Regions from separate parts of the Homo sapiens genome. Here region 1 is linked to region 2. Evidence: fine-mapped expression QTL. A gene starts in region 2. The other region holds a variant in brackets. All regions are shown on one strand. Distances are from middle to middle.

Evidence for each region. PIP is the estimated chance that this variant, and not a neighbour inherited with it, causes the effect.
Region 1: its variant is the best candidate, but not a certain one, in a credible set for the expression of ENGASE in iPS cells (HipSci, PIP 0.52).

The regions. Positions count from the first base shown.
Region 1 is chr17:79,051,623-79,056,999 of GRCh38, forward strand. No RefSeq gene overlaps it. Among named protein-coding and RNA genes, the nearest start is that of ENGASE, 21 kb to the right of the region's middle. The variant G/GA (reference allele first, on the strand shown) is at 2,557.
Region 2 is chr17:79,072,520-79,077,896 of GRCh38, forward strand. It overlaps ENGASE (endo-beta-N-acetylglucosaminidase), which reads left to right and starts at 2,305. Exons shown (of 14, transcript NM_001042573.3): 1 at 2,305-2,571; 2 at 4,911-4,978; 3 at 5,144-5,345. The coding sequence starts at 2,426. RefSeq lists a silencer at 2,167-2,706.

The sequences.
Region 1 (5,377 bases), 21 kb before region 2:
GTAAGGTCCACTATGGGAACGCAGTGGCGTGATGGCAAGCTGATTTTATTGGGCCATAATGACTAGCATAAGATGAGACATTGTTGCCCAGATTATTAAAAAAAAATAGAATGTAACAGAAAATAATAAATAATGCAAGATATCGATGTCCCAACATGCAAAAGAATGGAGTTGGGCCCCTACCTCACACCATATACGAAAATTAGGCCTTGGATCAAAGGCCTAAATATTAGAGCCAAAACTACAAAATTCTTAGAAGAAAGCCCAGGCATACATCTTCATGACCTTGGATTAGGTGATGATTTCTTAGGTATGATATCAAAGGTACAAGCAACAAAAGAAAAAAATAGATCAACTGCACATCATCAAACTTGTAAATTTCTGTGTTTCAAAGGACACCATCAAGTAAGTGAAAAGACAACTCACAGAATGGGAGAAAATATTTGCCATCATATATCTGATAAGGGACTTATATCTAGAATATATAAAGAACTCTTGCAACTCAATAATAAAAAGACAAATAATCTAATTAAAAATGGGCAAAGCAGCCCACACTTCTCCAGAGGAGATATACAAGTAACCAATACACACATGAACAGGTGTAATCATCAGAGAAATGCAAGTCAAAACCACAGTGAGACACAACTCTACAACCACCAATACACACATGAACAGGTGTATCATCAGGGAAACGCAAATCAAAACCACAGTGAGACAACTCTACAACCAATGGGAAGGCTGTTGTCAAGAAGACAGATGATAACATGTGTTGCTGAGGATATGGAGCTGCTGGAACTGCTGTCAGGAATACAAAATGGTGAGTCCCCTTTAGAAGACAGCCTGGCAGTTCCTCAAAATGTTAAGCATAGAGCTACAGCTGACCCAGCCATAACACTTCTAGGTATATACCCAAAAGACATGAAAATATATGTCTATGAAAAGCTTATAGATAGATGTTCATAGCAGCATTATTAGTAATAACAAAGAAGCAGGTACAACCCAAGTGCCCACTCAGCTGATGAACAGGTAAACAAATGCAGTGTGTCTATACAAAGCAGGCAGATCACAAGGTCAGGAGTTCGAGACCAGCCTGGCCAACATGGTGAAGCCCTGTTTCTACTAAAAAAATACAAAAATTAGCCAGGCGTAGTGGTGTGTGCCTGTAATCCCAGCTACTTGGGAGTCTGAGGCAGGAGAATTGCTTGAACCTGGGAGGCAGAGGTTGCAGTGAGCGGAGATCGTGCCACTGCATTCCAGAGCCTGGGTGACAGAGCAAGACTCACTCCATCTCAAAAAAAAAAAAAAAAAAAAAAAAAGGAATGAAGTGCTATTACCTACTACAACATTGGTAAACCTCAGAAACATTATCAAAAGGGAAAGAAGCCAGACAGAAAAGGCCATACGTTGCATGATTCCATTTATATGAAATGACCAGAATAAGCAAATCTAAACTAAAAATTACTGAATTCTACACTTTAAATGGATGATTCTATGGTATGTAAATAATATCTCAATAAACAGCAGTTATCAAAACAAGTAACACAAAACCAAAAAATTAGGCTGCCGCAGCCTTCTCTATTCAAGGCTGGAAAGTCCTGGAGCTCCAGAGTCATGACCTTCAGAGTTGGTCCCATTGTTCTGGGCTTGGCTTACGATGGCACAGGGGCCAAGGGCCAGTGAGATGGGATGGGAGTGTCAGGGTTAGTTTTTCCAAGGACATTGTTGAACAAGCATTTTTGAATCAACTGGTGGGTGAGATCACAGAGTCAGCAGGAGGCTGATGCAGGTGCCAGGGGAAGCATTCCACAAGGAATGACTAATTGAGGACCATGTCTTCCTCTCTAAAGTCCTTCCACAGCTGGGGCAGGGATGGGAAACTATGGTGACCTCAAGTGCTCCCATATCCTGCCCTTCCTAGGGCAGAATGGAGTAAGCCCATTTCTCATTATGCAGATGGCCAGGCAAGGACAAGGAATTTCTACTTCAGACACTTTTATAGATAGGATTAGAAGTCCATATGCTCTGGAAAATTTGGAAACCTCCTTGCCTAAAGACAGGAAATGTTCCAACCGCTCAATTGACATAGCCACTAAGTTAGTTCTCCAAGCAACTTGAGATCCTGCTTACTGAGATATTCCACAAGAATGTATTAAATGCCTACCACATGAGGGAAAAAACTCTTACCATTTAGAGTTATCACAATCAGAATATAAAATAACTATGCTTGCTACATTCAGGGAGGTAAAAAAAAAGGATTGATATTTGTGGCAGAAAACTTTAATGATGGTGATGATGGTGGTGATAATAAAGAAGCAAATGGAAGCTCTAGAAGTGAAAAACAAAACAAATGAATTTAAGAGCCTGGGCAACATGGCAAAATCCCATCTTTACAAAAAAATACAAAAGCTAGCCGGGCATCGTGGCACATGCCTGTAGTCCCAGCTACTTGGGTGGCTGAGGCAGGAGGACCACTTGAAACTGGGAGGTGGAAGCTGCAGTGAGCCATGCTTGCACCACTGCATTCCAGCCTGGGGTACAGAGTGGGACCCTGTCTCA[G/GA]AAAAAAAAAAAAAGAAAAAGAAAAAAAAAAATAAACTAAGAATTTGGTGGATAAATATACCATCATACTGTACACAGCTGAAAAGAAAAATCAGTGAATTAGAAGAGAAATCAGAAGAAAATATTTAGAAAGAAGTATGGAAAGACAAAAGGATGAAAACACAGAACAAAAGTACAGAAGTGACAATAAGAAGGCCCAATACACGTGCAACTGGAGTCCCAGGAGGCAACATGAGAGAGAAAAGGCAACAGAAATATTGGAAGATAAAATAGCTGAGAAAAATCACCCAATTGATCAGTCTCTAAGGTACAGATTCAAGAAACTCAGTGAATCCCAAGCAAGACAAATAAAACCAAGGTCACAGCCAGCATGGCATATCATGGTACAACTACTAAAAACCAAAGACCAAGAGAAAGTCTTAAAAGCAGAGGGGAAAATATTTTCTTTCACAGGAGCAATAATAAGTATCACAACTGACCTCTGCTGTGGTTTGGATTTGTGTCCTCACCCAAGCATGTCAAATTGTAATTCCCAATGTTGGAGATGGGGCCTGGTGGGAGGTGATTGGGTCATGGGGGTGGTTCCCCCTTGAGTCCCCCTGTTCTTGTGATAGAGTTCACATGAGATCTGGTTGTGTCAAAATGTCTTCCCCGTCTCTCTCTTCCTCCTGCTCTGGCCATGCAAGACCAGCCTGCTTCCCCTTTGCCTTCTGCCATGATTGAAAGTTTCCTGAGGCCTCTCCAGAAGCCATCATGCTTCCTCTACAGCCTGAAGAACTGTGAGCCAATTAAACCTCTTTTCTTTGTAAATTGCCCAGTCTCAGGCAGTTCTTTATAGCAACAAGAGAATGAACAAATACAAGCAAAAGAGCAGAAGCCACAAGATAGCGGAATGGAATGTTTAAAGGGCTAGAAATAACTGTCCATCTCAGTTCTATTTCCAATTAAAATATTTTTAAAAAGATATTTTCAAACAAACAAAAATTGGGAGACTCTGTCACTGGAAAACCTGCACTGAGAGAAAATGAATGCAGAGGAAAGGTGAGAGATGCAGGGAGGAATCCAGGCCTAGAATAATGGTGAATTTGGTGGCGATTCTCAACGGATGTCGCCAGTAAGAAAATAATAATCTTGGAAACCAGTCGGAAAATTCTCAGAATGTTAAACATAGAGTTTCCACATGACTCAGTACTTCCACTAAGTGTATACCCAAGAGAAATAAGGACAAGCTCCCACACAAAAGCTTGTACTCCAATGTTCCTAGTAGTATTCATAATAGCCAAAAAATGGAAGCAACCCAAATGTCCATCAGTGGGTAACGGAATAAATAAAATGTGGTGTGTCCATATGATGGGCTATTATTTGGCTATAAAAGGAATGAATTAGTGATGCATGCTACAGCATGGAATGAACCTCAAAACATTACACTGTGTGCGAGAAACCAGACATGAAGACCACATATTGTGGGATTCCATTTATATGAAATCTCCAGGGGAGGCACATCCATGGAGACAGAAAGCAGACGAGAAGTTTCCAAGGCTGCTTGTGTGTGGTGGGGGGATTAGAATACGACTGCTAGTTGGTTTCTTTTTGGGGAGACAAACTGTTTGTTTGTTTGTTTTTTTGAGATGGAGTCTTGCACTGTTGCCCAGGCTGGAGGGCAGTGGCATGATCTTGGCTCACTGCAACCTCTGCCTCCCAGGTTCAAGTGATTCTCCTGCCTCAGCCTCCCAAGTAGCTGGGATTACAGGTGCATGCCACCACGCCTGGCTAATTTTTTTGTATTTTTAGTAGAGACAGGGTTTCACTATGTTGGTCAGCCTGGTCTCAAACTCCTGACCTTGTGATCCACCAGCCCCGGCCTCCCAAAGTGCTGGGATTACAGGCGTGAGCCACCATGGCCGGCTGAGACAAACTGTTCTAAAACTAGATTGTGGTGATAGCTGCACAACTCTGTTAATTGTCTTGTTGTTGTTGTTGTTTGTTTGTTTTTGGAGACAGAGTCTCGCTCTGTCACCCAGGCTAGAGTGCAGTGGTACGATCTCAGCTCACTGCGACCTCCACCTCCTGGGCTCAAGTGATTCTCCTGCCTCAGCCTCCCGAGTAGCTGGGATTACAGGTGTGCGCCACCATGCCTGGCTAATTTTTGTATTTTTAGTGAGACAGGGTTTCACCATGTTTGTCAGGCTGGTCTTGAACTCCTGACCTCAGGTGATCCACCCACCTCGACCTCCCGAAGTGCTGGGATTACAGGTATGAGCCACCACGCCTGGCCGAACTGTTAAAGAAGACCTTATTTAGTGACTCTTGTTAAGGCATGGTAAGGCAGACCTTATCAGGACTGTTGAGACAGGTACAGGGACCATTGCAATGGGGTCTTGTGGTGGAGGAAAGGGATTGGGTGTAACCCAGAATACAGCTTGGGCAAGTGGGGATTTATAGCCGGGGAGCAGGGTGGGGGTCAGTGGGTGGAAAATTCCTAGGAGGAAACATCGGGGTGAGGGGGTTCTGGCTATAACCATTAGGTTTTTATTGTGGCAGCATCTGTAGGGAATGCTGGGCTGTGAGTCAGCACTGCTTCCCAGTGCATGTATAAGTTATGTTTACGCTATACTATAGTCTATTAAGTGTGCAACAGCATTAATTCTTATCAAAAATGTACATACCTTAATTTAAAAAATACTTTATTGGCCCAGGCATAGTGGCTCACGCCTGTCATCTCAGCACTTTGGGAGGCTGAGGCAGGTGGATTTCTTGAGCCCAGGAGTTCAAGACCAGCCTGGGCAACGTGGTGAAACCCCATCTCTACAAAAAGTTAGCT
Region 2 (5,377 bases):
GAAGGAATATTGGGGACAATTAGTTCCTGCCACACTCTTCAGCATATCAGCAACCAAGCCCGGGGACCAGGTGGTGTCCACTCACCTGATTCTCATTTCCGGCTCCCCCGGAGGCCATGAAGGAGGAGGCAGAGGAAGGCAGAGCAAGCAGGTGTGACTCTAGGTCCCCACTCCGGGCGCTCTGGGCATGGCGAGGGGGGGTGCAGAGGCAAGTGCATGCACTGCGTCACGACCTGCAACAGGAAGCTGATGGGACAGCATGGTCAGGCAGGGAGACCCGAGGCTCAGCTGTCCCAAACCAACCAGTACTGGTGTGGGCAGAGCCCAGGACAGCCAAGAGCCTGCAGGGAGGTGTCAGAGGGGCCCCTGTAACAGGGCAGGGTGGCTCTGCCGAGGCTGTAGTTCAGATTCACAGGTAGGGATGCCAGATTTAGCAAATGCATAGACAGCATCCTAGTTCAGTTTGAATTTTAGATAAATATGCAATAACTTTTTAATATAAGCTTGTCCTATGTCCCAGGCATCATTTATTTGGAATTCAAATTTAACTGATTGCTCTGTATGTTATCTGAAAACACCAGAAGGTTAGGGTTTTAGAGGGCCCACTCAGGCCTCAAACGGATCCAGAGCCCCAGTATGAGCCAATGTGAGCTCAAGGCAGACAGGGCCCCTCCAGGCTTGGCCTGACATCCAGAGAGACCACGAGCCACAGGGGCTAACAAGAGGCCACAAGGCCTAAGTCCTTTCTGTCCTCAGGGGCGTGCAAGGCTGCCTTCACTTTCTTGCTCTTCTAGACCAGGTGCCTACTCTTTGGAAAGGAGAGAAGAAAAGGGAGGTTTGGGCATATTTTCTCCCAGAGACTGAGCATTACCCAAAGGCTGTTCAAAGTATCCCTTAGAACTGTGTTCTAACCTGGGTAGGATGAAAGTTTATCTATTTTTATTGCTAAGCTGCAGGTGAGGGCTTGGGAACACCTGGTTACATGCACCCCAGATCAAGACTGTCCACGTCCGGTGCACCCCTGAACACAGCAGGAGGGAACTTGGGGATCCACTGCCCTCGCTCACTGTAAGCTTCCCAGGACTGAAGCCCCAAAGAGGAGCCCTCTGCCTTCTCTGTCCTCCCCATGGGTCAGCGTGTCCTGCTTCTGAGTGGCCCGTCCTTCCTGCCTAACTGGCTGGCCTGCACCATGGCCCATATTCAACAACCTTAGTCATAGTTCCCACCATTGGCGTTTATGGAAGCTTGGAGCCTCATAAAGTTCAAAGTCTGCAACAATAATAAAGGCCCAGTCAACTTGGCTTGGGCGGCAGCTGCAGCCCAGCACTGGAAGCTCCTAGCTGTGGAGGGGCGTTGGGGCCTGGAGGGAGGAGAGCCTTGGTTTGCCCTGTGGGGCCCAGCCTTGAGTTCTGGCTTCTCAGGGCTCTGTTCTATCATGTTTCCTGTGAACTCCTTTTGTGCCTAAGACGCTGGGCAGTGCCACTCTTGCAGAGGTGCCACTCCAGGCCCTGCACGCTTAGGGGTAGAGCAACTACTACTGTTGGGCACAGGCGTGGGGCTGTAGAAAGAAATCCGTGTTTCACTGGAAAACTATGCATCCTACATAGGACACCAGCTTCCACATGGCCCGATACTAACCTACTAACCTTTCATCTTTTTTTTTTTTTTTTTGAGACGGAGTCTCCCTCTGTCGCCCAGGCTGGAGTGCAATGGCACCGTCTCGGCTCATTGCAGCCTCTGCCTCCCGGGTTCCAGCGATTCTCCAGTCTCAGCCTCTCAGGTAGCTGGGATTACAGGCATGCACCACCACGCCCGGCTAATTTTTGTATTTTAAGTAGAGACGGGGTTTCACCATGTTGGCCAGGGTAGTCTCGAACTCCTGACTTCAGGTGATCCGCCCGCCTCGGCCTCCCAAAGTGCTGGAATCGCAGACGTGAGTCACCGCGCCCGGTCTGAAAATTATCTTTTAATAGGGGTTAGCTGCATGAGTTAAAATCTCATTGCCACCATTTGCTGACTTTGTGCCCTCTGGGAGATTGCTTAATCTCTCTGGGATAAACCTCGGTTTGCTTGACAAAGGAAGCTGGTGAGGCTAAAGAGAGAACTCTAAGATTGGGGCGTTCCGAAGCCTTCTAGAGCCTTCTAGCACCCTGGACTCATAGCCAATGATGGGCAACAACAAGAACGACGACGAACCCTGGGCTCGGAACTCGCCCAGGCCCCGCCCCTCACAGCCCCGCCCCGTCCTCGGCCCCGCCCCCGGCCTGTCGCCTCAACAAAGTCCCCGCCGCGCGGCCGCTGGCCGGGAGTCAGCTCGGAGTCCCGTCCCAGCGCGGCGTCAGCGCTGCGCACTTCCCATTGGCCGAGCGCGGCGCGGGGGCGGGCCCGGGCCTGCGATTGCCTCTCGGCGTGCGCGGACAGTGTCATGGAGGCCGCGGCGGTGACGGTCACCCGGTCGGCTACACGGCGGCGGCGGCGGCAGCTGCAGGGGCTGGCGGCCCCGGAGGCGGGGACGCAGGAGGAGCAGGAGGATCAGGAGCCGCGGCCGCGGCGGCGGCGGCCGGGAAGGAGGTGGGGCTGCGGGGCCCGCGTGAACCCCGATCCGCGGGGCTGAGAGTCCGTGGCCCCGGGGCCCGAGGTTTCCCGGCACGGGCGCGCCGAGGGGCGGGGGGCCGGCGCCTGTGTCCGCTCCGTGCACAGTAAGGGACAGAGGGTGGCAGCGCCCCTCCGCCCCGGTCCGCCCCGCCGTCCTCGCGCCACTGCCGGGCAGCGGCCTCCGGCCCCCGTGCGTGACCCCTGCCTATCTCAGAAATACGGGTGCAAACCCGAGTGGCCGCGGGGCCCAGCGGGAATCCCGACGCCCCGGCCAGACCCCTGCTTCCCACGTCGCTGGTCTATGCGGAAGATCCCGGCGGCGGTGCTCATGCCTGGCTCAGTGGATGCCGGCTGGTGGAAGGGGTGGCCTTCTGTAGGGGTGACACTAGAACTGAGTCTTTGGGGAGGAGGAAGCCTTCAGTAGGTGGAGAATAGGGAGTAGGGTATCCAACTGGCGGGGAACAGAAAGGGCCAAAGCACAGAGACAGAAAGGGACGAACATGCCCCTCTGGGCTGGGCTTCCTTCCTTTGGGGGGCACTTGCCCACCCGGTAAACTCCCCCTCAGTAGGTTGCAGGGGGAGAAGTTAGGAGCACAGACATGGCTTCCGGAAACAGCAGCCGTAGCTTTGTTTCTAAACCCAAAGCAGTGAGACTGCTGAGCATTTCAGACCTCATGAAGATGGGATGAAGGCTGGCTGCTGGGAAAGATATTTTTGGACAGGAGGAATGTGGAGATGGCTCTTTCCCTCCTAGTGGAGGAATGACAGGTGACAAAGGTGACCTGGTGTGGGATTGTTCTGAGAAGGTCTGGGAGGGGGTGGCTGAAGTATAATAAGGACATCAACGAGGAAGGGGGCTTTGGAAAAGGAAGGTGGAGAGGAACAACTGCGGCATCTCTGCTTGAATCCGTCCCCGACCCCTGCAGTTCTCAGGGTCTCCCAATGTCATTCTGGAGGCCCTGGGTCAGTGTTTGGTGATGGCAGATGCTACAGAGGACTCTTTGCAACAGGCCTCTGAATGGCAGTGGAGTGATGGCAGATGACAACTCAGTGAACAAAGAAGTGGCCTTGGGCGTTGGTAGATTTAGGGAATCTCAACGTTGGTGCCATGGCCTCTAAATAGCCACTGCGGTGTCTTCTTACTGCTCCTAAAATAATAATGATTTTTTAGGCCAGGCATGGTGGCTTATGCCTGTAATCTCAGCACTTGGGAGGCTGAGGCGTGTGATCACCTGAGTTCGGGAGTTTGAGACCAGCCTGGCCAACATGGTGAAACTCAGTCTCTACTAAAAGTACAAAATTAGTCAGGCGTGGTGGCAGATGCCTGTAATCCCAGCTACTTGGGAGGCTGAGGCAGGAGACTCACTTGAACCCAGGAACTGGAGGTTGCAGTGAGCTGAGATTTCACCACCTTACTCCAGCCTGGGCGACAGAGCGAGACTCTGTCTCAATTAATCAATCAATTTTTAAAAGAAAGTGGTTTGAGATGTATTTAGGAGCTTTCCATGTTAATGTACCGAAGGAACGAAGGAACTCTTTCTCCCTGTAACATACATCCATGAACAGCGCGGAAGGCACTTAGGGAAGTGTGGCCTATAGAGGAAGCCTGGTCTCTGCTCTCTTAGGACCTGAAACTTTCTGGTGCTTTGGGTATTTGGATATTGCCCCTTGGCCATAGAAAATCCTGGGGACCCTGTGAAGTATTTATGTCTGGTCTTTGTGGTATTGGGGTGGCTGCTTTAGAGGGTAAGGTTTATTCTATTTATTTATTTTTTTGAGATGGAGTCTCGTTCTGTTGCCCAAGTTGGAGTGTAGTGGCACAGTCCCGGCTCACTGCAACCTTCGCCTCCCAGGTTCAAGTGATTCTCCCTGCCTCAGCCTCCCAAGGTGCTGGGATTACAGGCGTGTGCCACCATGCCCAGCTAATTTTTGTATTAGTAGAGATGGGGTTTTGCCATGTTGGCCAGGCTGGTCTTTAACTCCTGACCTCAGGTGATTCGCCTGCCTTGGCTTCCCAAAGTGTTGGGATTACAGGCGTGAACCACTGCGTCTGGCCTAGGGTAAGGTTTATTCTTAGGAGTAATCATTGGTACGTGTGTCCATGTGGAAGCCAAGCCCTGGTTGCTAATATAGGTAAAACCTTAGGATTATCACAGGGCACTTCCTTGCTTTATACAATGTTTCTATAGTTAATATTAAACAACATAAGGCAGAGAATATCTCTCTGTGTTTAGATGAAACTGGTCCATTTGCTTCTAAGTGTTCTTACCTATTTATGTTTTTATTTATAAATGTACAACTCCCTCTTTGCTTAGCATCAAAGATGAAGAAGAAGAGACAGTCTTTCGAGAGGTGGTCAGTTTTTCCCCGGACCCCCTGCCAGGTGAGGAGACAGAGGCTCTGAATACCGATCCACCTTCACACCTGGGGCTTTGGGGCAGGTCAGCCCCTGCCCCCTCTCATGTTCCTTCTCTGTTATTGTTAAAATGTTTCGATTAATCCTATAATAGTTTCCATTAATTGCTCAATGTTTCTGTCCTCGGACCAGTTAGATATTATGACAAGGACACCACCAAACCAATCAGCTTTTACTTGTCTTCGCTGGAGGAGCTCTTGGCGTGGAAGCCCCGCTTGGAGGATGGCTTTAATGTGGCCCTGGAGCCCCTGGCGTGTCGCCAGCCCCCTCTGAGCAGCCAGAGGCCCCGGACTTTGTTGTGTCATGACATGATGGGCGGGTACCTGGATGACAGGTGAGGACCTGGCCTTACATTGATGTTGCTTA